Regions from separate parts of the Homo sapiens genome. Here all the other regions are reported to be linked to region 3. The links are microRNA targets in miRTarBase. Many come from high-throughput screens and were not tested one by one. Region 3 holds a microRNA gene; each other region holds the end of a gene's coding sequence.
What was found. The annotated mature microRNA hsa-miR-6875-3p reads AUUCUUCCUGCCCUGGCUCCAU and lies in region 3 at 4,630-4,651, shown strand. An mRNA with a match to its seed (bases 2 to 7 or 8) in the 3' UTR can be bound and repressed. Matches are read on the target gene's strand: a 7mer-m8 pairs with bases 2 to 8, a 7mer-A1 pairs with bases 2 to 7 and ends in A, and an 8mer does both.

Region 1: the mRNA of SUCLG2 is a reported target of hsa-miR-6875-3p. Seed matches in the 3' UTR shown: 8mer at 5,827-5,834.
Region 2: miRTarBase lists FAM81B as a target of hsa-miR-6875-3p. Seed matches in the 3' UTR shown: 7mer-A1 at 5,756-5,762.
Region 4: miRTarBase lists BCLAF3 as a target of hsa-miR-6875-3p. Seed matches in the 3' UTR shown: 7mer-m8 at 3,061-3,067 and 7mer-A1 at 2,158-2,164.

Annotation. Positions count from the first base shown.
Region 1 is chr3:67,369,820-67,376,942 of GRCh38, forward strand. SUCLG2 (succinate-CoA ligase GDP-forming subunit beta) reads right to left here. Exons shown (of 11, transcript NM_003848.4): 11 at 4,900-6,040. The coding sequence ends at 5,925. Among named protein-coding and RNA genes, the nearest start is that of MIR4272, 150 kb to the left of the region's middle.
Region 2 is chr5:95,448,984-95,456,106 of GRCh38, reverse strand. It overlaps FAM81B (family with sequence similarity 81 member B), which reads right to left. Exons shown (of 10, transcript NM_152548.3): 10 at 5,666-5,958. The coding sequence ends at 5,825. Among named protein-coding and RNA genes, the nearest start is that of FAM81B, 61 kb to the right of the region's middle.
Region 3 is chr7:100,863,451-100,870,573 of GRCh38, forward strand. It overlaps MIR6875 (microRNA 6875), which reads left to right and starts at 4,586; the gene lies at 4,586-4,657. SLC12A9 (solute carrier family 12 member 9) reads left to right here. Exons shown (of 14, transcript NM_020246.4): 14 at 2,269-3,560. The coding sequence ends at 3,155. TRIP6 (thyroid hormone receptor interactor 6) reads left to right here and starts at 3,937. Exons shown (of 9, transcript NM_003302.3): 1 at 3,937-4,156; 2 at 4,411-4,538; 3 at 4,658-4,783; 4 at 5,045-5,416; 5 at 6,920-7,013. The coding sequence starts at 4,048. RefSeq lists silencers at 3,585-3,674, 4,035-4,184 and an enhancer at 4,625-4,724.
Region 4 is chrX:19,911,308-19,918,430 of GRCh38, forward strand. It overlaps BCLAF3 (BCLAF1 and THRAP3 family member 3), which reads right to left. Exons shown (of 12, transcript NM_001367774.2): 12 at 1,553-6,027. The coding sequence ends at 5,998. Among named protein-coding and RNA genes, the nearest start is that of SH3KBP1, 27 kb to the left of the region's middle.

The DNA of each region.
Region 1 (7,123 bases), not on the chromosome of region 3:
TTCCTACCCAGAAGCCATTTCCATACCCTAAAGAAGTGGCACTATGAACATTTTTGAGGCTGTTAATCTGTACTAAAAAACTGACCTCCAGAAACGTTATACTGATTACATAGTAAATACTAAATTAATGAAGAGTATCTACTTTCTTATATTTTTGTCAAACTTGAATATTAATACTTTTATTTTTAATACTAGATTTTTATAAAAAATAAAAGTATGAGAAAACATAGTTTAATGAATTTCAATGTATGCGAATATTTTACAAATTTTTTTGAAATTCACACGCAATATTCTGAAAGTTTACAACTGTCAATGGGTCCATACAAATTATGTAACATTTGAAACAATTAACAGAAATTTAAAGGGTTCTTATTTAACTGAATGTTTAAAAGTTCTCTTGAAAGGAAGCAATCTTGGAAGAAATTATTTAAAACATAGGATAATTAAAAATATGTTTAATAAAGAACAATAAGTAAATGTTTCAAGATAGAGTCATGCAGTTGGGAAACAATGATCTTTTAACTAGAGGTCCAAAATTCTTTTAAAAAAATAATAGATTTTTTATTGGTATCCAGGGAGCAAGGTTACTACTGTTCTTTTCTTAAACACACAAAAAGCACCAATTGGCAAGGTCACCTGTTTGTATCCATGAGATCATATACATGAAGAGTGATAAATAAAACCCAACCAATACTTTTATTAATATACAGGAATCCCCCCTTACCTGCAGGGCATCCAAGACTCCCGAGTGAATGCCTAAAACCACAGATAGTACCAAGCCCTACACATAGCATGTCTTTTCCTAGACATATATCCTTATGGAAAGGTTTAATTTATAAATGAGGCACAGTAAGAGACAAACAGGAATAAAATTGAACAATTATGACAATATGCTGTAATAAAAGTTATATGAATGTGGTCTCTCTCAAAACATTTCATTGTACTGTACTAATCTATTTTCTGACTGTAGCTGACCACAGGTAACTAAAACTGAAATGTGAAACCATGGATAAGGGAGGACTACTGTATGTGCTGTATGTGATTCCTAATACAAGGCTATTTATTTATTTAAAACGATTTATCATTGTGATGTCGTTTCTGCTTTTTAATACAAGGTCCTTCAAAAATTATTTGTTTTGCTCAGGGCAACTAGTTATAAGGATTTAAAGCACATGAATGTTCAATATTAAAAGGTAATTGAAAAAAAACTCCAAATTGAATCTCCAAATCTTCTAGTTTCTCCCATTGTCTGATGTTTGAAAACAGATGTGTTAATGACTACTACATCATGGCTTACTTTCATTTTTTTCTTCCCTAGCTAGGAAAGGAATTAGGAGAGCTCCCAATAAACATGCCTGTATGTTGCTGCCTCTACAAACACAAGGGAGGAACAAGAACAACAACAACAAAAACCTGACAATTTCCCCATAGCTGGCATATACAATTTAATTAATTTTGGATTTGTGAAATTTGGCATAAGGTGCCTAGGAATTGCTCCTGGCTTACTTAGAATATGAAAATATGAGATAAGACTGCCAGACCTAAACTTCTCCAGAAGAAGGGTAAAGGCTGCACACTAAATTTTCTCCTAATATGATAAAAGTGCCTCCAGCCTTTATCTCTTCTGCCCCTCTGCCTTTTGTCTTTTGGATGGTCATGGTTATAGATGTTGGGAAGGCACTGAGTTAAAGAGAAGACACTTGGGAATTAGATCCCTAGAAAATGGCCCTTGCCTTATGCCTTGTGCAAGTCCCGGAGGTGCCATTCACATTGTAGTCCATATGACCTGCCAGTTGCTTATGGTGATCTTTCTGCTTCTAAATCCTGCTTCCCAAAGTATGAGATACACAGGGCAAGCAATACATTCAAGAACCCAGCTTGCTAAATGTCTTTGCCTCCAACATCCTTTCAAATGATCATAAGTGGCATAACCTTAGTGAATTTGGGTCCCCATAGATACAAAACAAAGACCAGTGGCTTTTGACTCAGAAGACCAAGTTTCAATCCTGACTCGCCACATGCTAGTTTTGTGCTCTTGGTCATGTTACTTAAATTCTCGGAGTTACAATGTTCTCACCAGTAAAACAACAATGACAGATTCATAGAGTTGCTAAAGAGGATTAATTAGGATAGCACAGGTAAAGTTCCTGGCACACAGAAAGCACTTAATCAATGTGAGCCTCTCTGAAGTGAAAGTAACGCATCCTAATACTCAGGAGATTTAGACCAGAGAGCTATACTGTCCAATATGGCAGCCACTAGCAATGTGTGGCTGTCAATTAATTAGCATTAGACTTTAAAATTCAGTTCCCAGGATGCTCAATAGTCACATGTGATGGATGACTATATGTTGGACGGCACTGATATTTACCATTGCTGTCATACAGAAAGTTTTACTGGACAATAGAAGAAATGATAGAATTAAACAAGAATCCAAAGTCCAGAAGCCAACATCTTTGCCATTAACTACGAAACTCAAGAGGAGCAACTTTATCTCACTTTGTCACAATTTCCTCACTGGTAAAATGGATACTGCCTTTGCAGTAATGTGGTGGGGATCAAGTACACTGCAGTCACTTTTTTTTTTCCTTGCTTTAGTCTTTCCAAGACTAAACAATGCATGACATACTTACTAGCAAGGATCACTTTGAGGATGAGTTAGTTGATAGGTGCAGCCCTTTGGTAGTTTAATATTCATAGCCATGATTTGGTATTATTCCAATGCACCTGTGAGCAGTTAGGAACAGCATATGTTCAAAAGTGCAAGGAGCTACTGCAGACAGTCCTTGTGGTGATGGAAAGACAAAAAGTAACAAAACTGAATTGGTTTTCATTGGCAAGTGGCCTTTTGTAGACTTTTTGTAGCTCTCACAGGGTTTAAAATGGAAAGATCAAAGATCTTATTTCCTACTTTTCCATTTCTGTTTCACTTTAATATCTAAATCTTCCTTTCTCAGGTTTGAAAACAATACTCCGTTGCTGTCATTTTGGGGGCAATGTTGTATTTTTTTATTTATCTAGAGCTGGGGTTGGCAAACCTTTTATGTAAAGGGCCAAAGAGGAAATATTTTAGGGTCATAAGGTTTCTATCACAACTACTCAGCTCTGCTGTGTAGCATGAAAGTAGCCACAGACAACATGCACACAAATGGGTGTGTCTGTGACAATAAAACTTAATTTACTAAAATAGGCCCTTGGGCCTTAGTTTGCCAACTCCAGATCTAGAAAAATATGAAAGAACATATCCTTTTCACTTCCCCACATTGTTTCCTTCCCCACTATGATATATATTTTCTCGCTTATTTTAATTTTGAACATATAGTGTATTCTACAAATGATCACAATCAAACATTCAAATATTTACTTTAGTAATGTGAAAAAATAATATTCCTTCTAATTTTTATCAAGGCTTTGCACTTAAAAAACAATATAATTCTTAATGACATTTTTTTTTTCCTCAGAGAGAAAACTGAGAGGAAGAGACATGAAAATAAAATGTAGAAGAATTGTAATTTAATTCTTGGAGGAGGGGATAAAGCAATTAAATCATTTATGTGATTATTTCATAAAAGGATTAATAACAAGCAAATAGCCTTTTATTTTCAAATAAGCTCAAAGCCAAAACAATCAAAAACACTGATTACAACTCAAGATGAGATTTTGGGTGGGGACACAGCCAAACCATATCAGGTAGTTAATATGTTAAATGTAAACTTGTCTGAGTTTTTTATGGCCTATATTTATTGTATAGAAGACCACAAAAATTATTGTAAATGAACCGGGGCCAGATTCAGGAATAGGTTACTGACCTGAAACTGATCACTGGAGTCATATTCAATTTTGGGAGGTGTCTTAGAATTACCAAGAGAAGCTTCTTTCCTTCCTCTCTCCTTCCTCCCTCTTTCTTTCGTTTATTTGCTCATTTATTTTCTCTTTCCCTCTGCTCCCTCTCTCTTTCTCTTCTGAGGATGCTAAATTTGAGAACCTCACATGTAATGGCCAGCAGCCATTATCCACCTGTAAAAATGGCCTGCCTGAGAATAAAACAATTAGAGACAAGCTACGCTAAGGATGCAAAAAGAACAAGCTCTGATGGCTTTGAGCTTATTTGAAAATAAAAGGCTATTTCCTTGTTATTAACCCTTTTATGAAATAATCACAAAAATGATTTAATTGCTTTATCCCCTCCTCCAAATTGGGTTGACTGGAAACATCAATATTTACAAGTGATTCAAACATAGTCCTCTTCAGAGATCAAAAATTTAAAAATGTTGTCTAGTTGACATAATATAGGTTATTTTTTTTACTGCACCAACTAGTGATTAAGCTATCAAAAACCAAAACACAACTAAGAAGACATTGTTAATATTCTTCATTCATTGCATGGGCATTAAGAAAGGATGTAAGACTGATCTATCCAATAGTTTATTTCTCCATGGCAAACATGGCTCTAAACAATAATGACTTTCATACTTTTGTCCACACATAAAATTTATGAGAACAAAGTAAGCTGGTAAAAAAAACAAACAAAATAGTTTGGTCTACTACATATTTATACACTGAAAGGAAAATTAATGGTGGCAATTGAGCCTCACTTAATGGAATGAGTTATACTGGAGTATCTCCCTTTGCGTTACGCAGACTGACATCACAGTTCAACCTGTCAGACATCTGAGATACATTCCTGGGGTTCTGGTTTGTGTATAACTTTTATGGATTCAATAATCTCCTAACACAGAAATGGGTATCTGATAAAGTTGAGTGGAACTGGAATAATCCTGGAATGACCCAAATTATCAAATTTTAGAGGCATACCTAAGACACTAAGACTAGTGTCTTTGTAAAAAAAAAAAATGTTTGAGGAATAAAATTGAGTAAAATGAGAGATACACACAGATCTTACAGCTTACAAAACATAATTTTATTTAAATTTGTATAGATAAAAATCTACCAAAATTTAAACAAAAATTTTATCCAAATCCTTTCCCACAACAAAATTGGACATCATGGAAAAAAAAAACACATTCAAATAAGGTTCCCATCTTTCTACCATAAACTGGTAGATTCTGGGAGGATGAGGAGTAAGAGAGAAACGAGGAGAGAAGATAGTGATACTAAACACAATTTGATCTTCAGTGTTGTCTCATCTTGAAATATCTTAATAACAGAGATTTCCATAAGAATCAGGATTCATTTTTGACACAAAAATGGAAGCTTCCACTCCCAAAATCACAAATAAGGCTTCTGGTTTTCTTTTTAGTGTGAGGTAAACAGTATATTCAATATTAAGGCAAATGGTAAAAACACATGGATGGTATATTAATGCAGATATTCCATTATTAAATATATTTTGGAATACTCACGGATTTTTCAAACATATGTTAGAATTAGAAACCTGTAAAATCTGCAGTAGTGTGTAATAGCTATTTGCTTGAATGTCTTAGCAGTGCCTTTTTAGTAGCTAATATGTTCAGTGTAATCTTATGCCTTTTTAGTAATTAATATATTAAATATAATCTTGTCTGAGTTTTTAAATGGTCTGTTTTTCTTTTTCATTATGTAGGATTAGATGCCCACCAAAATTCTTGTAAATGAAGCAGGACTTGATTTCAAATTCTGTCTATACACACAATATTTGGCCACATAGACCACTCCCCAAAGTCTGCAAAACACTGCCTACTGGGCAGGCTTACAGTGACAGAAAAGTATGAGAACACAAGATATTATTTTTATAAAGACCAAAATCAGATTTAGGCTGTCTAGATATCTTATTCCAGAAAACACAGATTTAAGATTTTTCAGTGATTCTTGCCTTCCCCCTCCCCTTTTCTTCCCCAATGAGATAACCATTTCTTTCACAATGATGAACCATCCCTTTTTACGGAAAAATGGCTTTCTTTCTCCATTGGATCAGGACAAAGACATCACTTCTTGGCCACACTGGCCACAGCCTTCTTGGCTGCATCCTCCAGGTCAATGGCTGAAGTAATGGGGAGTCCGCTGTTGTTGAGTATCTTCTGGGCCTCTTGGACGTTGGTTCCTAGAAGGGGGACAGGGAACAATCACTGAATGAAACTAGAGGTGGCGCCTTATGAAGTTTGCACAAGGACACACAAGACTCACCTGTCTACAGCTTTTCACTAGGAAATGAATTAAATATAGGTTCTCATCAAGGTCACTGACAGAAAAGATTATGTGATGAAATTTATCTCAAGCTGTGGTCCAGCTAGAAAAGAAGATGAAAGCAAGGGCTTGCAAGAGGGAAATGAACATATTTTACTGATGGAAGCTGAGTTGTCTGCTGATAATCACAGCCATGTGGATTTAATGCGGTTTTGGCCCACACCAGAAGTCACTTGTCTTAAAGCCCTCTCAGACGTCATCAGGGGTTTGGGCTGTGACCTGATTTGAGAAAGGAAGTTCCGAGAATCTGCCCAGCTATGTCCACAAATCCACTGCTTTGGAGACTCTGGCGCATCCAGCATGTCCATTTCTGCCTTCTCCTCACTCTATAAAATGAAATGGGCTGAGCCCTTCAAAACGGGCAAAGCAGCCTCTGATGGCAATCTCTTGACTGTTCCTGGTGGATCTGGAGTATCTTCTGGCCAAGTCACTTCATTCAAAGGTGTGCTTGGGGACTATTTAACATGAGAACTGCTTTTCTGCCATTTTAGAGTGAACAACTCCTGTAGGAGAAATGTAATAGAATTTAAGTGTCTAATGAAATATCTCATCCTACATCATTTCCTGTGCTTTTATCTAGTTGGCAAGACAGAGCCTATTTATAAACAAAGACCTTGAAATATAGGCCTTGGAGAACTTGCCTTACCACAAAGAGTGCAGATAAAAAGAGGCACTGGGTCAGCACATTTCATATAAAGAGGCAAATGCTGGATTAAATAGAAATGGGTGGATTGAAAAGATGATGCAGCACTGATTCCCCTGGGACCCTGGGTCTACCCAAGCAGCAGTGAAGATGGCCGCTTGGCACTGTGTCTTCACCTTAAGGCTCACCTACTCCTGTTTTTACAGAGGAAGCTGGTGAAAGTCCTCTCTGGAAGGTGAAAGCATAAAATGTGGGAAGCTGCTACCTAAAATCTCCATGCTGGCTCTGCCATGTACT
Region 2 (7,123 bases), not on the chromosome of region 3:
TTGCTTCCCACACTGCATCTAATGTATTCTCTACACTGCAGCCAGAGGGATCTTTCTATAAAATGCAAATCTGTCACTCTCCTATTTAAGATCTTTTAAAGGCTACTCTGGATCCTTAAGATAAAGCCCAAGTTTCTCAATATGAGTTACAAAGTCTTTTGTGATTAGACACCCCACTTTCCCTAACTTCTCCAGCCTTCTCTCTCACTACTCACCTCCCCTAACACACAGCATAGGCTCTGACCTACACTTATTGAGCTTCTTGCAATTTCTGGCATATATCCCCATTCTCTTTTGGCCTCCAGGCCTTTGCTCAGGCTGATCAATCTGCCTGAGCCCTCACCTCTACCAATCAAGCCTCTTTCCCTTGACTTATGTCTGCTTATACATTGGAGGTCTCAATTTAGATACTCCTTCTTCTGGAAGACCCCTCTGCCTGATTCCCTGTGTTTCTGGTAAACACAGGGAATGTGTTTCCTCTCTCTGGCTCTCCCATTACACTCTACTTTCCCATGTATTTGTGATTTTAATTGTTGGTCTTTTCCACTAAACTATAAATTCCCTGAAGGCAGGGTTTGTGTTTAGGTTGTTCAATATTGTATCCACAGTGGCTAGCCCATGGATGTATGGAAGCTGGAAAGATAGAAATAGTAATACTTCACAAAAACTTTGGAGATCCCTTTTGTAAGGCAACAATGTGCACTGTGTGTGTGTGTGTGTGTGTGTGTGTGTGTGTACTATAGATCAAATTTTTCCTTCTTGGTGTTTTGGGATGCTACTTGCTGCTACTATGGGTGAAGCCAATGGAAGGGAGTCTATGTTTGGAAAATTAGAAGACGGGAGGGCTGCTGGTGTCTAGAGTACTCTGGGAATGCTGTTTCTTTGACCAAAGTCTTGGGCCTTGCTGCTGTCCTGACTACCAGATGGCAAGCATATATGCCTCACAATGGGGCTGAGAAAGCAGTTACCTGTGTGGCAGAAGGGGAGGGATTTGTCCTTAATTTTTAGTGCAGAAGTAAAACACTTTGAACATGACCATCTAGTCCTCAGTATGAATAATTTCATATGATTTTTCCCCAAAGAGCAAGTTTAAAATTTTTTATTCTACATATGTAAGATGTACATTGTGGGTTTTAATATACACTGTGATACCTCAATCAAGCTAATTAACGTATCACCTCACATAGTTACCATTTTTGTGTGTGTGGTAAGAACACTGAAGATCTCTCAGCAAATTTCAAATAGACAGTACATTATTAAGTATGATCCACATGCTGTACATTAGATCTCCAGAATTTATTCATTTTAACTTTAAAGTTTGTATCCTTTGACTGAAATCTTCCATTTGCCTCGGCTCCCAGCCCCTGGCAACTACTGTTCTATTCTCTGTTTATTTCTATGAGTTCTGGCAACTACTGTTCTATTCTTCATTTATTTCTAAAGAGATTCCACATGTAAGTGAGTTTGTGCAGTATTTAGCTTTTTGTACCTAGCTTATTTCACTTAGCATAATGCCCTCTAAGTTCACTCATGTTGTCGCAAATGGCAAGATTTCTTTCTTCTGTAAACCTGAATTATATATATATGTATATACATAGATGACAGTTTATCCATTCTTCTGTCAGGTGGTTTCCGCATCTTGGCTATTGTGAATAATGCTGCAGTGAACATAGGGTGCAAATATCTCTTTGACATACTGTTTTCACTTTATTTTCCAGAAGTGGGATTGCAGGATCATGTGATAGTTTTATTTTTAGTTTTTTTGAACAGCCTCCATATTGTTTTCCCTAATGGCTGTACCAATTTATTGTCCCACATACAGTGCACGAGGGTTCCCTTTTCTCTACATCCTCACCAACACCTGTTATCATTTGAGTTTTTATATATCTGTTGGCTATTTGTATATCTTCTTGGAAAAACATCTATTCAGGTCCTTTGCCCATTTTTTTTATCAGGTTATTTGTGTTTTTGGCTATTGAGTTGTTGAGTTCCTTATATGTTTTTGGATACTAGTTCCCCATCAGATATATGGTTTGCAAATATTTTCTCCCATTTCATAGGTTCTTTCATTTTGCTGATTGTTTCCTTTGCTGTGCAGAAACTTTTTAATTTGATGTAATCTCACTTGTTTACTTTTGTTGCCTGTGCTTTTGGTGTTATATCCAAAAAGTCATTGTCAAAACTAATGTCAAGGGGCTTTTCTCCTATGTTTTCTAAGAGCAGGTGTTGATAATAGGAAGGAAACAACAGGAAATTTAAGGGCAGTAGGACCCTTAACTATTCAAGACTGTTTAAATGGTGTTTGTACTTAAAGTAAAAACTACCTGAGCATATTTTAACATATGCCTCAAGTCTGTAGCGTGGATCTGGATTGCAGATTCTCCAGTGCTCAATCATCCTATATTTGTGGGAAGAGAAGTCTGACATTTCCCAAAGGATTAAGTAATATTGTTTGATATGGAATAAAGTGCCATGTATATTGAGCTTCTTTAGGAGGATAGTTTTATTTATCTTTTTGGATTTCTGTCAAAATAAATGCAAGGGGAGGGAGGCCCAGTGCTCCACTGGTTCCTTGAACAGAGGTGAATTTACTGTGAAACAATGGCTCTTAAGCTTCAGGGGCTCCTGCTTGCGTGAGCTCTAGCCATGTATTTACAAGATCATTGTCATATTTACAGAAGTAAGACATTTTAAACATAATTGATGAATGCCATTGATTAAGACCACTGCCTCTTTTCACTCCCACTTCCCTTGATGTCGGGTGGTGCTGAAGTGGCTGTGGACAAAGAGAAGTTGAGTTGGGGATACATTTGGATTACAGGGATATATTCATGTTGTTCACAGTCACTTCTGTGTTGAGTTACTACTAGCTGTCCTGATTAGGAGTGGCTTCCAGGAATATTCTTATAGACTTCTGTGCTAACTCATCTGGCATCAGGACAGTACATCAATAACAAACTGAAACATCATAAGCTTTAGACTCTGAGAAACCTGGATCCACCTGCTCAATGAGCATAGTTCTTTGACTATCTAGAGTCTGTGCAAACCCGTGAACACCTCAATTTGGCATCCCAAGTAGAAGAGTGGTGATAGAGGATTCTTTGATCCTTTGATCTACTGCCCCACATGTTACTGTCCTGGCCAAGAGCAATGAAAGATCTATTGTTGGAAAACTTTTGGCCTGATTTTACACTATTATTTGAACTACAATCTAATTTAGAACATTTTAGAACATTAGAACATTTAGAACAAGGAGAAAATGTATATTTTTTTCAGTTGCTGTGTATCCTCTCTGCTTTTGTAGCTATGTCTGTATAGCAAAAAGAGAGTGAGATGACTTGACTCTTAGTCTGTATTAATTCCTAATTTAACCCTCCCTACAATCATTTGTTTAGTTCATTACAAAGAGTTACTCTTTCAGCCTATTATATTTGTTGTTGTTTTTATAAAATATTTTTAGTAGAAACAAAAATATTATATAAAAATATAAAAGCTTTCATAAATCCTTAATGTAGAAAACAGAAGTTTTTTAAAAAATAGAATCCACTAAGTTTGTTGTAAATTCTTACCTTTTTTGGCATACAGTATATGCATATTATGTTTAACTTAGTTAAAACATTTTATGACAAAAGTGGATCATATCCATATTGCTTTTAAACTTGTCTTTTTCACCTAACAGTATATCTTGGACATCTTTCTGTGTTCTTTTTAAAGGGCTGTCCAGCATTGGGTGGTGGGGGGAGTGGTCTTGTTAATACCATTTAGTCAATCAATTCCTTATATTTGGGTGTTTTCTGGTTTTGGTGTTTCTTTTCCTTTTTTTTTTTTTTTTAACTATAACAAATGATGCTATAATGAGCATTCTTGTTCATATATCTTTGCACACTTTGGGAGTTGTTTCCCCCGGTAATATAAATTTCTAGCCATGGATTGCAGGATCAAAAGATATTTACATTTAAAAACATTAACAGATGTTCTCAAATTGCCATCTAAATCATTGTACCAATTTATAGACTCGCCAATAATGTATGAGAGTGCACTCTTTCTCCACCCTTGCCAGCCCAGTATTATCAATCACTTTAATCTTTGCCAATCTTGAAAATAGTAGCTAAGGGTTTCTTAATTTTTATTTATTTAACAGTAAAGTTGGACATCTTCTCATACCTTCATATTATTATATTCTTCTGTGGCTTGCCTGTTCATATCCTTTGCCCATTTTGAAAAAAAATTGATTATTTTCTTACTTACTTGTAAAAGTTATTTGGGATTACTTGGGATATTAGCCCTCTGTCTTAGCATGATACTTGGTTACAAAGGACACTTACCATTGCATTATTTTAATATTTCTTACTTTTTCGTTGGATACCATATCATCACTGAACATACTGCATTTTAAACTCTTAAATTAAATTCTGCTATGAAAATCCCTTCAGTTATAGACTCAATGATGCTGCATGTGGGTTATTAATAGCAATAAAAGGAGATGTTTCATAGAGTTAAAACATTACAGAAGTGAGCATTAGTCAAAAATTTACTCAGAAGGTAAACTTGTTCTGTATTAGGGGAGGAAGTTGTCACTTTTCTTCCCTAAGCCAAGGAAGGAGCCTAAGTCGGAAGCAAAGTTTCCATTGCCAAGCTTACATAAGTTCTGTGATTAGAAATTAGTCCTTGTTATAGCCGAGTGCATATCCTGAATAGTTCATTTTTATGTTTCATGAATATACTGCTCAATATTAGGCTCTATATTTAATATTTATATCTAGAAAAGTTAGACAATTTTTTTTTTGAGACAGAGTTTTGCTCTTGTCACCCAGGCTGGAGTGAAATGGCGTGATCTCAGCTCACTGCAACCTCTGTCTCCAGGGTTCCAAGTGATTCTCCTGCCTCAGCCTCCCGAGTAGCTGGTATTACAGGCGCACGCCACCACACCCGGCTAATTTTTGTGTTATTAGTAGAGACGGGGTTTCACCATGTTGGCCAGGCTGGTCTCAAACTCCTGACCTCAAGTGATCCACCCACCTCAGCCTCCCAAAGTGCTAGGATTACAGGTGTGAGCCACTGCACTTGGCCAACAATTTTTAATTGTATAGGAAACTAGCATTTTTGAAGTACTTCTGAATTTAGCACCTAGGTCAAATTACGTTGGATATGTTTTCATGGAAACTGTTGTATTCTCTTATTTTGCATGGTTTGGCTCTTAATTGCTTATAATTCTGGTACATATTGAGTACAAGGAAAATATATTTTAAATATGCATAAGTTAGACTTGCTACAAACATTGAGATTAGAAGTTGCAAACTGACCACTAGGTCATATCTGCTCCACAGGCGTATCTCACATAGTTTGAGAACTATTTTGAACTAGTTGCTAAAGCTTAAAAATAGAGGAATTTCTCTTGAAAAGTGGAATTTTGGATAATAATGGATTTTATATATATATATATATGTTAGTCATGGACTGTCACTACATAGTAGCTATTATTTTTAGACAGAGTAAGTGCTCTCCAATTTGCCAGAGCTCCTGTCATTCTTTAATATATTACAGCTGGCCTACTTCACTCATGTACCTTATGTAGATTCCTCTTTCGTTATTTATAGGTATATATATACATAAAGGCAGCTATATAAAGAAATTTCTTAGTTTTTTCATTAATAAATTCAAGACATCCGAAGCTTCTTTGCTTTATTATTTTTCTGGTACATTCGTCTCCTTAAAAGGAGACATTAGAAGCAGTAAACATCCCAGAGATAGTAACTTTCTTCTTCAGAACTTTTTCCAACAAATCACTCCATTGGCTGATGAAAAAGAAGATGACTGAAAAGGTTTATACTTCCTGGAGTTCCACTATCTTGCGCTGTAATTTCTTTAGGTCTTTCTGTACTTTATATTTCTCTAAATCCATCTTTGTTTTCTGTATTTGTTGGAGGGAGCTGAGAGAGTCATGAATTGATTTAAATCCTGTAAGAGGGTAAAAGAATAGGTACACTTAAACAATGCATTAGAGCTTTTTTTTAAAAAAGTTGCTAATCGGCAGTCCTGCCATAATTGATTATCATTTAATTCCAAGCGCATTAAATTCTATGAAGACCAGCCTAAAATTGTACATAATATATTTCTTGTATGTCATGAAGATCCATTCACAATAGTGTTTCAACTTATATCTAGTTATCTGGTTTCATTGTGAAATTTATTTTTCTCCTCCTCAAATATATTGCATAATTCTATATTGCAAGAGAGAAATTTAAAATATTTTATTCTTTCTGAATGCTTTGATGAGAGACTTGTGTGATTTTTTTTCAGTCTTGTTACCAAATTGAAGGTAAAGATCACAGATGAGATTTTAAATCTTCTCTGAAAGTAGCCTATTTGAGGGACCTAACAGCGGCCCCCTGCTGCCCTCCTCCCTCCTAGCACTTTGTATCTCTCTTATGCATGTCTAGTCACTCCTGACCACAGACCTATCAAACCTCAAGGCCTTAGGGCACAACCCATTTGTTATTCACTGGGGCCTTTCACAGAGTCGTTTCTCAACACATTTTTATTAAAGGCATAAAGCAGCAAACCATTAATTTGAAGTTCCCCCTTTTTAGAACTCCTCCTCATTAGTAAAATGAAAGAACTTGCAGGTGGTAAATTCCTTTTCAGTTCACCCTGAAGTTTTACTAATGGAATAAGTAAAATTAAACCTCTGATAGTTAAACAGAAAGCAGAGCCTTTAAAAGAAGGGCCAGTTAAGTTTGGGACATGATTCCTGGCCAGATAATTCATTATTTTGATATGACGGTGGGAGGGGTATATTGTGAGGGTTGAATTTCCAGGCAGCAAATTCTACTTATATGCCAGGAACATCTGGCAGATTGAGACCCTCATGTCCTCCCAAGGCACCTCCAAGGTATCTCTATACAGGACCAAATTTGGTAGAATTTACACATGAATTTTTCTGAGATCTAGAAGACAAAAGAAAAAAAATTACTTGGGACTTTCTCTAGGAAAGAAACTCTTCTGAGTCCTGGTAATTCCCTCAGAATTATGACTCAAGGCAGATGGCTGCACCACAGCACCTATTCCATGTCCTTCCCTTTGAGAAATTAGATGAGCCTTTCAAATTAATCCTCTTTGATGT
Region 3 (7,123 bases):
CTCCAGCTGCCTCATCAAATCAGATGGTTTTTAACCACCAGTGTTCAGAGGAAGGCAGGCCAGCCACTATACACTGATGTGGCCAGCAAAGGTTTTGCGGAGAGATGGTAATTCATCCAGACTTTGAAAGAGGTTGGGATGTAGGAGATGTAACATGTCTCCCCTGCCCCCGCCACCCAAAGCCACAAAGGATGCCGGAGGCTGTGTGGGGCGGACGTCTGTGGATGGAGCGGTAAATTCTCAGCTTTTAGCGCTGAGGCCACCAGGGTTATCTATGCTCAGTCACTGCCTTTTCCCTTAATCCTGGACCAGTGCCCGTCACCAAAGTGCATGCTTCCTTCTCTATTCAGAGTCTGGCTAAAGTTCAACAGTGTTGGACATTGCCCAGTTCAGTGTAAATCAGAACCCTGGGAAATACTGAGGAGGGGGCATGACTAGTTTATTTTGCAAGATCAGCTGGAATTCACACCTGCGGAGATGTTTTGGGGTGTCGTCAAGCATCATTGACCCACAGAACATCTGAGAGCCTGGTCTTCACTTTTTGTGCAGAGACCACAATGCTTATGAAATACGAAATTTTTCCTGTGGAAGATATCAGGTCGGTGCAAAAGCAATTGCGGTTTTTGCCTTTTTTTTTTTTTTTTTTTGGACAGGGTCTCACTCTGTTGCCCAGGCTGGAGTGCAGTGGCACAATGTCAGCTCACTGCAACCTCTGCCTCCCGGGTTCAAGTATTCTCCCATCTCAGCCTCCCAAGTAGCTGGGACTACAGATATACGCCAGCATTGTCCGGCTAATTTTTGTATATTTTTGGTAGAGACGGGGTTTCACCATATTGCCCAGGCTGATCTCGAACTTCCAACCTCAGGTGATCCGCCTGCCTCAGCCTCCCAAAGTGCTGGGATGCCATTTTAATGGGGGAAAAAAAGAACCACAATTACTTTTGCACCAACCTATTCCAATAAAAGGAAAAGTAGTTCCTTTAAATGGTGGATTCTCCTGTCATAGAAAATTTGATTTATGGCTTGAGCAGTGTTTGTTTCATGAGAAGGGGTCTTGGAAGAGGTCTCTGCGTCTCCCTGTAAACTCAGCAATTATCCGATTCCACAAGGGTTGTTCAAAAATTAAGAACGAAGAGCTTGTCAGCAGGGACTTGGAGCATTGTGGTTGCCACGTGCCCAGCTCGGTGGCTCAGAGTGTGGCCTCTCACGCTGGATGGAGGCGGATTGCGTTGACCTACCTGCCCCAGTACCTACCAGATATGAGCCTATGGGCAAGTGACTTCATCCCTTGGTGCTTTGGGCTCCTTATCAGTAAAAAGAGGAGACTAAATATTACCTACCTCATAGCATTACTTCGAGTTTCAAATAAGTTAAAATATAAAGTGCTTTCTACAGGACATAGCCCCTGGTAAGCGGATACCATGCAATGAACCACCATGATTAGGGTTTTGGTAAAACCTACTAGGGTTAGGGTTTACTGCAGTAAACATACGGGGTAGCCCTGTTTCTTTTTTTCTTTTTTTTTGAGATGGAGTCTCGCTCTGTTGCCCAGGCTGGAGTGCAGTGGCGTGATCTCGGCTTACTACAACCACCACCTTCCGGGTTCAGGCAATTCTCATGTCTCAGCCTCCTGAGTAGCTGGGATTATAGATGCCCACCACAATGCCCGGCTAATTTTTGTATTTTTAGTAGAGATAGCATTTCACCGTATTGGCCAGGCTGGTCTCAAACTCCTGATCTCAGGTGATCAACGTGCCTCAGCTTCCCAAGATGCTGCGATTACAGGTGTGAGCCACGGTGCCCTGCCTGGTCCATTTTTTCATCTTCCCATTGCAGAGTCTGGGACGCTATTACCCTGGGGATTCAGGTCATGAGCTTGGCTGATCAGGGTGTCTGGTTTGCACAACAGAGTCAAACTCGCATCCCCTGCCGTGAAACAGATGCCCCGCTAGAAGCCGGGAGTGGACAGCATCCTCCTCTCCATAGAATTGGAGTGCTCATTAGTGGCAAGAATCCTAAGGCGAACTTTGCCTGTTTAAGTGGAGGAGATTAGTCACTGAGATAATAAAATAAATGCATGTGAAAGTGTTTAGGAAAAATGAAAAGTCTTTATGCAAATATGCAGAATGTTGCCGTAAGAGCCCGTACACAGTGGGAATGTCATACCTATGGCTGACGCACCTTGCTGTCAGTGTGTGGGAGCGTGGTGTAAACTTAGCCTGTGAGCCTGACTCCTGTCTGTTCCTGCCTTCCCCGCTCTGCCCCCAGGTGGCATGAAGCCCAACACGTTGGTCCTAGGTTTCTACGATGACGCTCCACCGCAGGACCATTTCCTGACGGACCCGGCTTTCTCTGAGCCTGCAGACAGCACCAGGGAGGGCAGTTCCCCAGCTCTGAGCACCCTGTTCCCTCCTCCCCGGGCTCCTGGGAGCCCCCGGGCCCTCAATCCCCAGGACTATGTGGCCACGGTGGCCGACGCCCTCAAGATGAACAAGAATGTGGTGCTGGCCCGGGCCAGCGGGGCCTTGCCCCCTGAGCGGCTGAGCCGGGGGTCTGGGGGCACCTCTCAGCTGCACCATGTGGACGTGTGGCCCCTCAACCTGCTGCGGCCCCGGGGTGGGCCCGGCTATGTGGATGTCTGCGGCCTCTTCCTGCTGCAGATGGCAACCATCTTGGGCATGGTGCCCGCTTGGCATAGCGCCCGGCTCCGGATCTTCCTGTGCCTGGGGCCTCGGGAGGCGCCTGGGGCGGCCGAGGGGCGGCTGCGGGCACTGCTGAGCCAACTGAGGATCCGGGCTGAGGTGCAGGAGGTGGTGTGGGGCGAGGGGGCCGGGGCTGGGGAACCCGAGGCGGAGGAGGAAGGGGACTTTGTGAACAGTGGGCGGGGAGACGCAGAGGCAGAGGCCCTGGCACGCAGCGCCAACGCCCTGGTTCGGGCCCAGCAGGGGCGCGGCACAGGAGGAGGGCCGGGTGGGCCGGAGGGTGGGGATGCTGAGGGCCCCATCACAGCCCTCACCTTCCTGTACTTGCCTCGGCCGCCAGCCGATCCCGCCCGATACCCCCGCTACCTGGCGCTACTGGAGACTCTAACCCGAGACCTGGGCCCCACGCTGCTGGTTCATGGGGTCACTCCAGTCACCTGCACTGATCTGTGATGCCCCTGCCTCCAGGGCTAGGTAGAGAGGGCCCAGGCAGGCGGCCTATCCTGATCCTTGGAGGAGGAGGAAGAGGAGGCCACTGTGGCCCGTGGCCCTGCCCTTGGGACGTGGAGCCCAGGGGAGGTTTGAAGGGGATCCTGGGCTTGGGCATCACGCCCACCTCCTTTGGCAGAGGGACCCCAGCACACTAACTCTGGGTGGCTGTCCCCACCGTGCAGGGGAGGGAGTCCGCAGCCTCCCTTCACTGGTGCCTTGATGCTAGGGGCCAGGCCTCCTCTGTGACTCTGGGCTACCTCAGTTTCCCCATTTTGGCCAGACTCACCGGCCCACTGGGGTGGTGATGTTTTCGTTCTGTTTTATTTTTCTAACTCTGCTGACCATGAATAAAAGACCAAAACACTACAGGCTGGCTGAGCAGTGCTGGTGGGTAGCTGAGAGGGAGGGGGTGGGAATGGAGAGCTCTGCAGAGGGGTGGAGATCGGAGCCTTCAGCCTCCCGCCGCGAGGCTGCCACGTGCAGGGCTGGGGTGCGGGGCCCGGACGCATCCGTGGACTTGGAGGCTGGCTCGGGCCCGCACCTCCCATCCCCAGCTGCCCGCAACCCCCAGTGACTCGGGATCCCCCGGAGAGCCCTCCCCTCTCGGCAGGAGGGGGCTGACTCAGGGAGAAATGGCAGTTTAGGGCCTAGGGGGCCACGTGACCCTCCCCCAGGAATGTGGTGACGTCATCGGAGGCGTGGTCGTCCCCAAAATTAGGGAGGAAGAGGAAAAAAAAAAGCCAGAAAAAGTTTTCTTTTCTGGAGTCCCAAACGAGGTGCGGGACGGAAGAGGGGGTGAAGGCCAGAGGCTCGGGGCTTCAAGACCGCTGTCTGGAGTCCCCCTTTCCAGGCCATGTCGGGGCCCACCTGGCTGCCCCCGAAGCAGCCGGAGCCCGCCAGAGCCCCTCAGGGGAGGGCGATCCCCCGCGGCACCCCGGGGCCACCACCGGCCCACGGAGCAGGTAAGGCAGCCCTTGTGAGACAGAAGAGCCACCCAGCTGTGGCGCTCACCTCTGTCCTACCGCTCCAGCCTCCCGCCCTGGCTGCTTCCTCCTGCCCCTTCCCCAAGCCGAGGCGGGGGGAACAGCCGCCTGCGCTCTCTTGGGACCCTAGATTTGGGGGAGGAGGTAACGAGAGGCGGAGAGGGTGGCTCCTCAAATATACACCCCTCCTGTCCTCCGCCACCCCACCTTTGATTTCTCTTCCCTCAACCCAGCACTCCAGCCCCACCCCAGGGTCAATTTTTGCCCCCTTCCATCTGAGCAGTGTTACCAGGCCCCAGGGGGACCGGAGGATCGGGGGCCGGCGTGGGTGGGGTCCCATGGAGTACTCCAGCACACGCAGGTGAGACCCGGGATCGTGGGGTGGGACATGTGGGATCCCCCAGAACCGAGTCTGAGGGACCCAGGACAGGAGAAGGCCTATGGTGATTTGCATTCTTCCTGCCCTGGCTCCATCCTCAGGGGCTCCCTGCAGACAGGGGGGGCCTTCGCCCTGGAAGCCTGGACGCCGAGATAGACTTGCTGAGCAGCACGCTGGCCGAGCTGAATGGGGGTCGGGGTCATGCGTCACGGCGACCAGACCGACAGGTGACTCTGCCCCTCCTCCCCGTCAGCACCCTGCCCCCTTCTCTGGACTCTCAGACCCAGCCTGATCGATCCCCCATGTGTGTAATGTGCACCCCAGCATGGAGGAAGCGTGGCTGCAAGTACCAACATGTCAGCCACTTGAGGACGGGACCTTGTCAAATGCAAAAAGCCTGTGCTTCCCCACAGCCAGGGTCATTTCCACAAATGTGGGTCTTGGAGTGGGGTCCTTGCTTACGACTTCTGGCCTGCGTTTCTCCTCAGGCATATGAGCCCCCGCCACCTCCTGCCTACCGCACGGGCTCCCTGAAGCCAAATCCAGCCTCGCCGCTCCCAGCGTCTCCCTATGGGGGCCCCACTCCAGCCTCTTACACTACCGCCAGCACCCCGGCTGGCCCAGCCTTCCCCGTGCAAGTGAAGGTGGCACAGCCAGTGAGGGGCTGCGGCCCACCCAGGCGGGGAGCCTCTCAGGCCTCTGGGCCCCTCCCGGGCCCCCACTTTCCTCTCCCAGGCCGAGGTGAAGTCTGGGGGCCTGGCTATAGGAGCCAGAGAGAGCCAGGGCCAGGGGCCAAAGAGGAAGCTGCTGGGGTCTCTGGCCCTGCAGGAAGAGGAAGAGGAGGCGAGCACGGGCCCCAGGTGAGCCCTGGGGAACTGGGATTTCAGGCCCTACAGACAATGGGACACCGACTGGGTGGGGTGGCTGGTGGTGTTTTAGGGGGCTTTTTTGTTTTTTGAGACAGAGTTTTGCTCTTGTTTGCCCAGGCTGGGGTGCAGTGGTGCCATCTTGGCTCACTGCAACCTCTGCCTCCCGGGTTCAAGTGATTCTCCTGCCTCAGCCTCCTGAATAACTGGATTACAGGCACACGCTGCCACGCTTGGTTAATTTTTGTATTTTTAGTACAGACGGGGTTTCACTAAAACCCCAGTTTGTTGGCCAGGCTGGTCTCGAACTCCCGACCTCAGGTGATCCGCCTGCCTCAGCCTCCCAAAGTGCTGGGATTGCAGGCCTGAGCCACCGCGCCTGGCCAAGGGGCTGGTTTTGGAGCAGAGTCAGAGGTCTGGGACGTGGAATAGGTAAGGGCAGGGCAGTGCGGGGGAGCAGGATAGAACTGCCCATTGGGGCTGAGCGCGGTGGCTCATGCCTGTAATCCCAGCACTTTGGGAGGCTGAGGTGGGTGGATCACCTGAGGTCACGAGTTCGAGACCACACTGACCAACATGGAGAAACCTCGTCTCTACTAAAAATACAAAATTAGCCAGGCATGGTGGCACATGCCTGTAATCCCAGCTACTCGGGAGGTTGAGGCAGGAGAATCACTTGAACCTGGGAGGTGGAGGTTGCGGTGAGCCGAGATCGCACCACTGCTCTCCAACCTGGGCAACAAGAGCAAAACTCTGTCTCAAAAAAAAAAAAAAAAAAAAAAAAGAACTGCCTACGGGCCCCTGGGCTGAGATGTTCTCAGATGAGCTTTCTAGCTGGAACTGCCTGGCCACCTTCAGAGACATTATAGCAGTCCCCAATCTTTTTGGCACCAGGGACCAGTTTTGGGGAAAACAATTTTTCCATGGACTGGGGAGGGGGATGGGAGGGGGTGGGAGGGGGATGGTTTCAGGATGATTCAAGCACATTACATTCATTGTGCACTTTATTTCTGTTATAATAATAATAGAATATATAGTATATATAATTGTTTCGGTATATATTACAATGTATATTACAATGTAATATATACCGAAACAATTATACAATTCACCATCATGTAGGATCAGTGGGAGCCCTGAGCTTGTTTTCCTGCAACTGGACAGTCCCATCTGGGGGTGATGGGAGACAGTGACAGATCATCAGGCATTAGATTCTCATAAGGAGCTTGCAACCTACATCCTTCGAACACACAGTTCACAATAGGGTTCATGCTCCTATGAGAATCTAACGCCGCTGCTGATCTGACAGGAGGTGGAGCTCAGGCGGTAATGCAAGTGATGGGGAGCAGCTGTAAATACAGATGAAGCTTTGCTTGCCCATTGCTCAGCTCCTGCTGTGTGGCCCAGTTCCTAACAGGCCATGGCCTGGCGGCTGAGGGCCCTGGTATTACAGCATCAGGAGCTAGAGTAGGACCGAGCCCGATTCCCACCTTCCAGGTGCCCCTGAGCCAGCCTCCAGAGGATGAGCTGGATAGGCTGACGAAGAAGCTGGTTCACGACATGAACCACCCGCCCAGCGGGGAGTACTTTGGTGAGCTGAGGCTGTGGGGTGGGTGGGACGTGGGAAGGGAGGCTGGGAGACAGAGGGGACAGTGGCTTCCTGGGTCTGTGAAGACTGATGCTGTTTCTCCCTGTCCTCAG
Region 4 (7,123 bases), not on the chromosome of region 3:
ATGAGAATTTACATTAGAAAATTATTTGTAAAGTTCTATCTACTTTTTAACATCTTAAATGATGTGTACATCAAAACAAACAAAACCCTTAAATTTTATTTATTTATTTGAGACAGAGTCTCACTCTGTTGTCTAGGCTGGAGTGCAGTGGTGCGATCTGGGCTCACTGCAACCTCCACCTCCCTGGTTGAAGCAATTCTCCTGCCTCAGCCTCCTGAGTGGCTGGGATTACAGGCACGCACCACCACACCCAGCTAATTTTTGTATTTTTAGTAGAGACGGGGTTTCACCATGTTGGCCAGCCTGGTCTCAAACTCCTGACCTCAGGTGATCCGCCCACCTCTGCCTCCCAAAGTGCTGGGATTATAGGCATGAGCCACTGTGCCCAGCCAAAACCCCTAAATTTTAATATAATTCAGGATTTCATAAAACATTTTTAAGGCCGGACAAGGTGGCCTTAAAAATGTAATAAAGTATAATCTCAACTACCAAAACAATAAAGCCCAGAAAAAAGACTAATGAGAAAATACCAAAATGTTAGTCTGCACTAAATATTTATGAGCAGTGGGATTATAGACAAATTTTTCTCCCTTTTACATACTATTCTATCTACTTTGTCAAGGACAAAAATTCAACAAACTGAGTTTCAAAGATCTGATTGGCTTTTATTAGTGATTCATGAACCAGGCAGCATCCAATCTACAAATTAGAAAGGAGCTCCAATGAGCTAAACAAAGTGGGTGAGTTTTATAGGCAGAAAAAAGTGGAGGAAAGCAGGAACAAGGAACAAATAGAGAACTGGCCATTTCAAGGTTACTTTCCTCACAGGGATATAAGTGAAATCTTGCTGGCTTAATGGAATTTGGCTACTGTCTCTTCTGATTTGTTGGAAGGTCACATCTTCCAAATAAACAACTTAGGTTTCTGTTTGGTGATATGGAACCTTAGCATGAGTGACACCATTTTGGGCCTGTTGTCTTTTAACAACTTTTGATCAGGAAAAAAAAGTTGTTTTTCTTTTTAAAAAGAAAAGCAGTAAGATGAATTTTTTTTTTTTTTTTTGAGATAGGGTCTCACTCTGTCACCCAGGCTGTCACAGCTCACTGCAGCCTTGATCTCCCAGGCTCAAGAGATCCTCCCACCTCAGCCTCCCAAATAGGTGGGACTACAGGTGCACGCCCCTACACCCAGCTAATATTTGTATTTTTTGTAGAGATGGAGTTTCACCATGTTGCCCAGGCTGGTCTCAAACTCCTGAGCTCAAACAATCTACCCACCTCAGCCTCCTTAAGTGTTGGCATTACACCGTGCCTGGCCAAATTTAATTTTTTATATATTATTGTTAAATATTACAAATCAATAATTTGTACTTAAAACTCAACACAATACATACTTAAAATAAGCCTACCTACTTTTTATGATGTGGGAGGAATGGCCGGGAATAAAACCCCAATGGACTATAGTGAAGTAGCCAGCCTATAACGTAAAAGCTTGTTTACCTGGATTTTGGTAGCAGATATATAATGGATAGGATGAAATGTTCTTACCACTGTTTTAAAAAAGAAAGACTTTATTTTATAAAAATGATACAACATTCATTATATTTGATAGATACAGAAGAGTACAGTCACTCATAATCCCACCATTTAAAAAAATCAACAGTGTTAACAGTGGGTGGGTATGTTTCCAGACCTCTCAATTCACTCATATGTACAGACAGGATTGACGGGGGGAATCCCTAAACTTTTTATTCTAACAAGTTTTATTTATTTATTTTCTTTTTTGACATGGAGTCTCGCTCTGTCGCCCAGGCTGGAGTGCAATGGCGTGGCCTCGGTTCACTGCAACCTTCGCCTCCCGGGTTTAAGCAATTCTCCTGCCTCAGCCTCCCAGGTAGCTGGGATTACAGGTGCATGCTACTGCGCCCGGCTAATTTATGTATTTTTATTAGAGATGGGGTTTCACCATATTGGCCAGGCTGGTCTCAAACTCCTGACCTCAAGTGATCCACTCGCCTCGGCCTCCCAAAGTGCTGGGATTACAGGCGTGACTCACTGTGCCCGGCCAGCAAACAAGTTTTAGATTTAACTTTATTTGAATGCAATAGAAAAAAAATTAGGCATTAAATTGAAGGGGCTGCTGAACTTCAGATAAATGTTTCTTCATTGGTTCCTAAAAGGGATAAATAAGCCAGTTATTCTCAAACTCAAGTATGTGCCAGAATCCCCTGGAGGACTTGTTAAATCACAGATTGCTTGGCCCCACCCCCAGGGTTTCTGATTCAGGAGGTCTGGGGTGGGGCCAAGAATCTGCATTTTTAACAAGTTCTCAGGTGATGCTGATGTTGCTGGTCTGGGACCACACTTTGAGAACCACTGTATTAAGGTCAAGGAAAAAAAAGATTGTGGAAAAACTTAAGGTTGGTCACTAGCGTTTTTCCCCATATTATAATTTTAAGACATGACGTGACATGACACCTGGCCATGAATGATGAGACGGTTAGTTCTTAAGTCTTTATCCCACTTTACCTCCTCCATGTCTGAATTTGTCAATGTACATTAATTTTTCTTTGTCAAGATTTATAACATTTACATACTATTCTACATCTATGATTCCTCAGTTCTTAAATGTTCATTCTGTATTTTAATGGACTCAGAGCTCATAATCATCCTATTTGACGGAACTTTGTTGGGGAACCTGGTATCCCCTCTCTTCTAGGTTCCCATTAAATGTCCAGAACCAGAACTCACTAGACACAGTCAAAGGTGTCTCTGACTTCTGCAGGATTTGGCTTTCCCAGGCTGCTCTGAGACCTGGGAAATGCCTAGTCCTGGTGAATCTTACCCCTTCTGCTGAGGTCCTGAGATGGAAGCAAAGACTTCGTTGTCCCAAGAGTTTTCCTTGACTCTCCTCCACGTGGCCTGGTCACCTCGTCAGTGCCTTTGTCCATACTGGGGCCCACTGTTACCAATATTTTTGTCATCTCCATTGTTTTACTCAGTGCTACTTCTGGGGATGGGCGAGGGATGAAGTCATACCACACCTTGTTGCATCAGCTTCTTCTTCCTTCCTTGCTTGGTTGTTCCTGGTGAATTTGTGCCTGGTGGTTACTGAATTTGCTGGGTAATAAAGACAATAAGAGTTTCTCATCCAGCTTTACTTTTCTTGCTTCTGCCTGGAAGTATCCCCGTCTTTTTTTTAAAAAAAAAACTATTCAAAAATGTAGGATTTATTAGGTAAAATGTGGTACATAGTATACATCTACATAAATTGTTACACATAAATGTAGCGAGTTTTTTTCCAATAGAAAAAAATGAAAATGTATCATCTAAAATATTTATAATAGTGTTCTCTGTGATAAGACTATGGGCAATTCTTCAAATTGAAATTTATGTTGAAGTAACTCTAGATTCACATGCAGCTATAAAAGAAATAATACAGAGAGATCCCGCGTACAATTTACCCAGTTTCCCCCAATGCATCAATTTTTAAAACCAGTAAAACCACCAACAGAATAGTGCCTTCTGAGGTTGGTGAAACCAATAGGAAAGAAACATGACGAGGGGATGCTGAATCAGAAATGTCAACTTTCCTCTCAACCTTTTGTATATATGTCCACTAAAGTACTTACTCTACATTGTGATTCTTTGTTTTTGTGAATCTCTTCTTCAGCAGTGCATGAGCTTCCTCACAGCAGGGACTGTGTCTTATTATCTTTGTCTTCCCAGTACCAGCGAAGGGCCTAGCACGTAGTGGAGGAAGGTGAGGAGGCAATGGTAGGGGACTTATCAAAAAAAAGAAAAAAAAAAAAAACTTCTCTTCTCAAGTCTTATGCATTCAAGAAGTCAAATTCTTTCCAGTCAATAAAAAATGCTATGGATAACCTTTTGTTCAATCTCCATATGAAAATTACACATGTAGTTCCTAATAAACATATTCTATTATTCCCTATTTATTCATTCATTATTCAACTAATATTTAATGAACTCTTACCACACGTCAAATAGGAAGCTGGGTGCTGGGGATACTATGGTGGACAAGACAGACACGGTCCCTGTCCTTATTTTATACTCTAAATTATAAAGTTGGTTTTTCCTTTTAGGCTTTAGATCTTATACACACAATGTTTTCTGCACAGGTATTTTGCAGATAACACGCTTTGCATATTGAGACAGTGCCAAAAGAATATCCAAATAGGGAATCAGTTGTGGAATGAATAATAGTAAATCAGCCATCTTACCTTTATGTGTTACAATAAATAAAAAGCGAGCTATAAAGGCGATTTACCAAGTTATATTTCTGTTTAATGTCCATTTTTCCTATTAGACTCTTCGTACCATAAAGGCAGGGTCCATGTGTCTTGTCTTCTTGTTCATTGCTGTAATTTTAGTACAGTATCTGTGCAATACATAGTTGTCAATCAAATGATTAAATATTCAAAGCTCATTACTGTCCCCTAGAATATGGGAGTAAATGAAATCAATTATTTTAAAATTTAAGACAGATTTTATAAGTACCTAACACAATATAAAGTTGCCATACTACCTGTGTGCATGCATTTCTTTCTTACCATAAGTGGAATGCTAAATATGTTTGGAAAACCTGACCTATAGAGATTGTACACAGTACAAGACAGGCCATCTACCCAAATTTATTACCTGCTTAGCAATGAATCAAGTGCACTTGCCCCCCTTATCATGAACTCACTTAAGGAAAAGGCTGCCCTCTCTTTTAAAGATATGGACAAGAAAACTGAATGTACTAAGATTTTTCACATCCAGTCATGAAAAACCAAGTTCTTATCAACCTTCACATTTTAATTTTGAAAGCTCTGTCTTTGTAAGCACAGAACAGTGCTTTAAACACTGTTTAAACAGAGGTGCTATCCAAGGCTATAAGTCTCAAACAAAATTAAAATAATGCTCTCACAAACTGGCAAGTAACTTATTTAAGCAGAAAGAGCAACAACATTTTATTTTATTACAAATAAACATTTCACAAAAATGTAATTGGGAATGTATATGTACTGTTAAGCAGAACACAGAAAACATAAAGAAATAAGGTATTGGGGCCTAAAAATTTCATTTAAAAATCCCATCCATTTGCTCTTACACATAGTAGGTATGCAATACATATCAACTGAACTAAAAGTAAACACTCTATAAGATGTGCTTGCAAAATGTGTAATGCTGTAGTAGTAAAGTACAATTTTCAAATATGAGATTTTGTTTGTCAGATTTTTAAAAAGCCTTTAAAAATATGATATGCACAAGCTTGCCCTGAGGGAAAAATAAGATGGACTATAGATTACAAAATCTTTACATATTTTCCACAATAGCATTTTGAAATTGGAAAAGAGCAAATAGTTGTGGAAAAAAACTGAATGAACATATTACTAAAAATTCAGTGCACTCACAACTACCTGATGGAATATTTGAAGCACCTTGTCTCTTGCCTTCTTATAATATGAAATGTATGAATTATATAGGCCTTGATCTTCAGAAACTTAAGAAAACTTCGAGTTATAAGCCAAAATGTCATCAGAAAAAGAAAAATCTGGTATAAAATTTTCTACCATAAGGCCACTGTTTAAAGTTCTTTCATGTAAAGACACTATACAATTCAGACACTTGTTTTTGTTTTTATTATGTAAGCAAAACTTTCAACATATAAACGTCTGAATATTACTTGGTGAAGTTCTCTCTATGAAACCATGCTCAGAGAAAAATGCATCAACAAATAATGCCCTTCAAGTGATTCTTTTGAGACTTTTTGCAAAGGAAACTGTAGTTAATACAACTTTTAAATTGAATACTGTAATTTAAAAGCAATTGTTAGGTGTAAAAAAGTTGCAGCATTCCACTACTAAAAAATAAAGTTATTTTATCAAGAAGTTACAGTATTAGTGCCTTAGTGTCACTTCTAACTCCTGACAAAAAGAGAGAGATGCTCCCAAACATCCTCCTGTAGCGTCATTTCCATTTGTACGATTTCAGATTAGATTCCTGTGGCAACATCTGTATATTCCTATTGAGAGAAAACAAGAGAAATAAAGACTTCAAACAAAGTGTCAAACATCTGAGCTAGTTTTGTTTACACTGCAATTTTCAAAGTATTTTCGTTTATACAGTGTTACTTGCACCCCGAGATTCCCACGAAGGCATGTGGAACCCCAAAGGCGCAAAGTAACAACAGAACACATCAAAGCAATATCGCATGATAAATCAATAGGACAAAGAAAACATGTGGTGCTAGATAACATTGATATTAGTAAATTGATGAAAACAGTCTTCTGCTATTTGGGTGAGTTTCAGTGAAGGCATCCCTGGCATAAAATCAAGACTCTTAAACCTTTGGCTCTCAAGTACGGAGCCTGACACTACACACGCACACCTCAAATTAGTATTTTATCTTTTCCACCCTATATCTCTAATTCTAAAACTACATGGGCTCTTTTAACTGACTGATAACTGCAGAGAAAGTTATTAGAGGGGGAAATGCCTTCTTACTTTTGGATGGTTGACTACAGTATAAAAAGGTGTAAGGCTTCAATAAATACAGGAAGAAGAATTTACAAGAACAATGAGACTATGATTAGAGAATAATGAACGTGGATTCTATACTGTGATACTATGCACAATATTCAATTACTAACCACAAACTGGACATAAGACCATGCAAGTAATAACGGAGCAAACATGGTAAAATGGCACATTTTTTAGGGACATTAAAAAATAAAAATTTATTAATATACATATCCTTACCTTTCACTAGGATCTTACACTATTAAAACTGAAAGAAATGTAAAAGTTGATTTATTTTTTGGCATTTATATTAGTATGGAAATGTTTAATTCCAAACAAAAACAGTGCTGATAGAAAATTCTTATTCTTCTATTTTGGTTAATGAAATCTTCAAAATACATGCACGTATATATTTGTCAACATCATTCCTTTAAATAGAGGTAGACTTCATTGTATCCTAGTTCTTTACTCATTATACAATATAAAAATCATATAAATTTATCTTCAAATAAAATGTTACCTACTTACAACTTTAAAAGGAAATTCTAACTACAATAATTCTAAAATAAGATTCAGTTGAAGTATCTTGTTAAATGTGT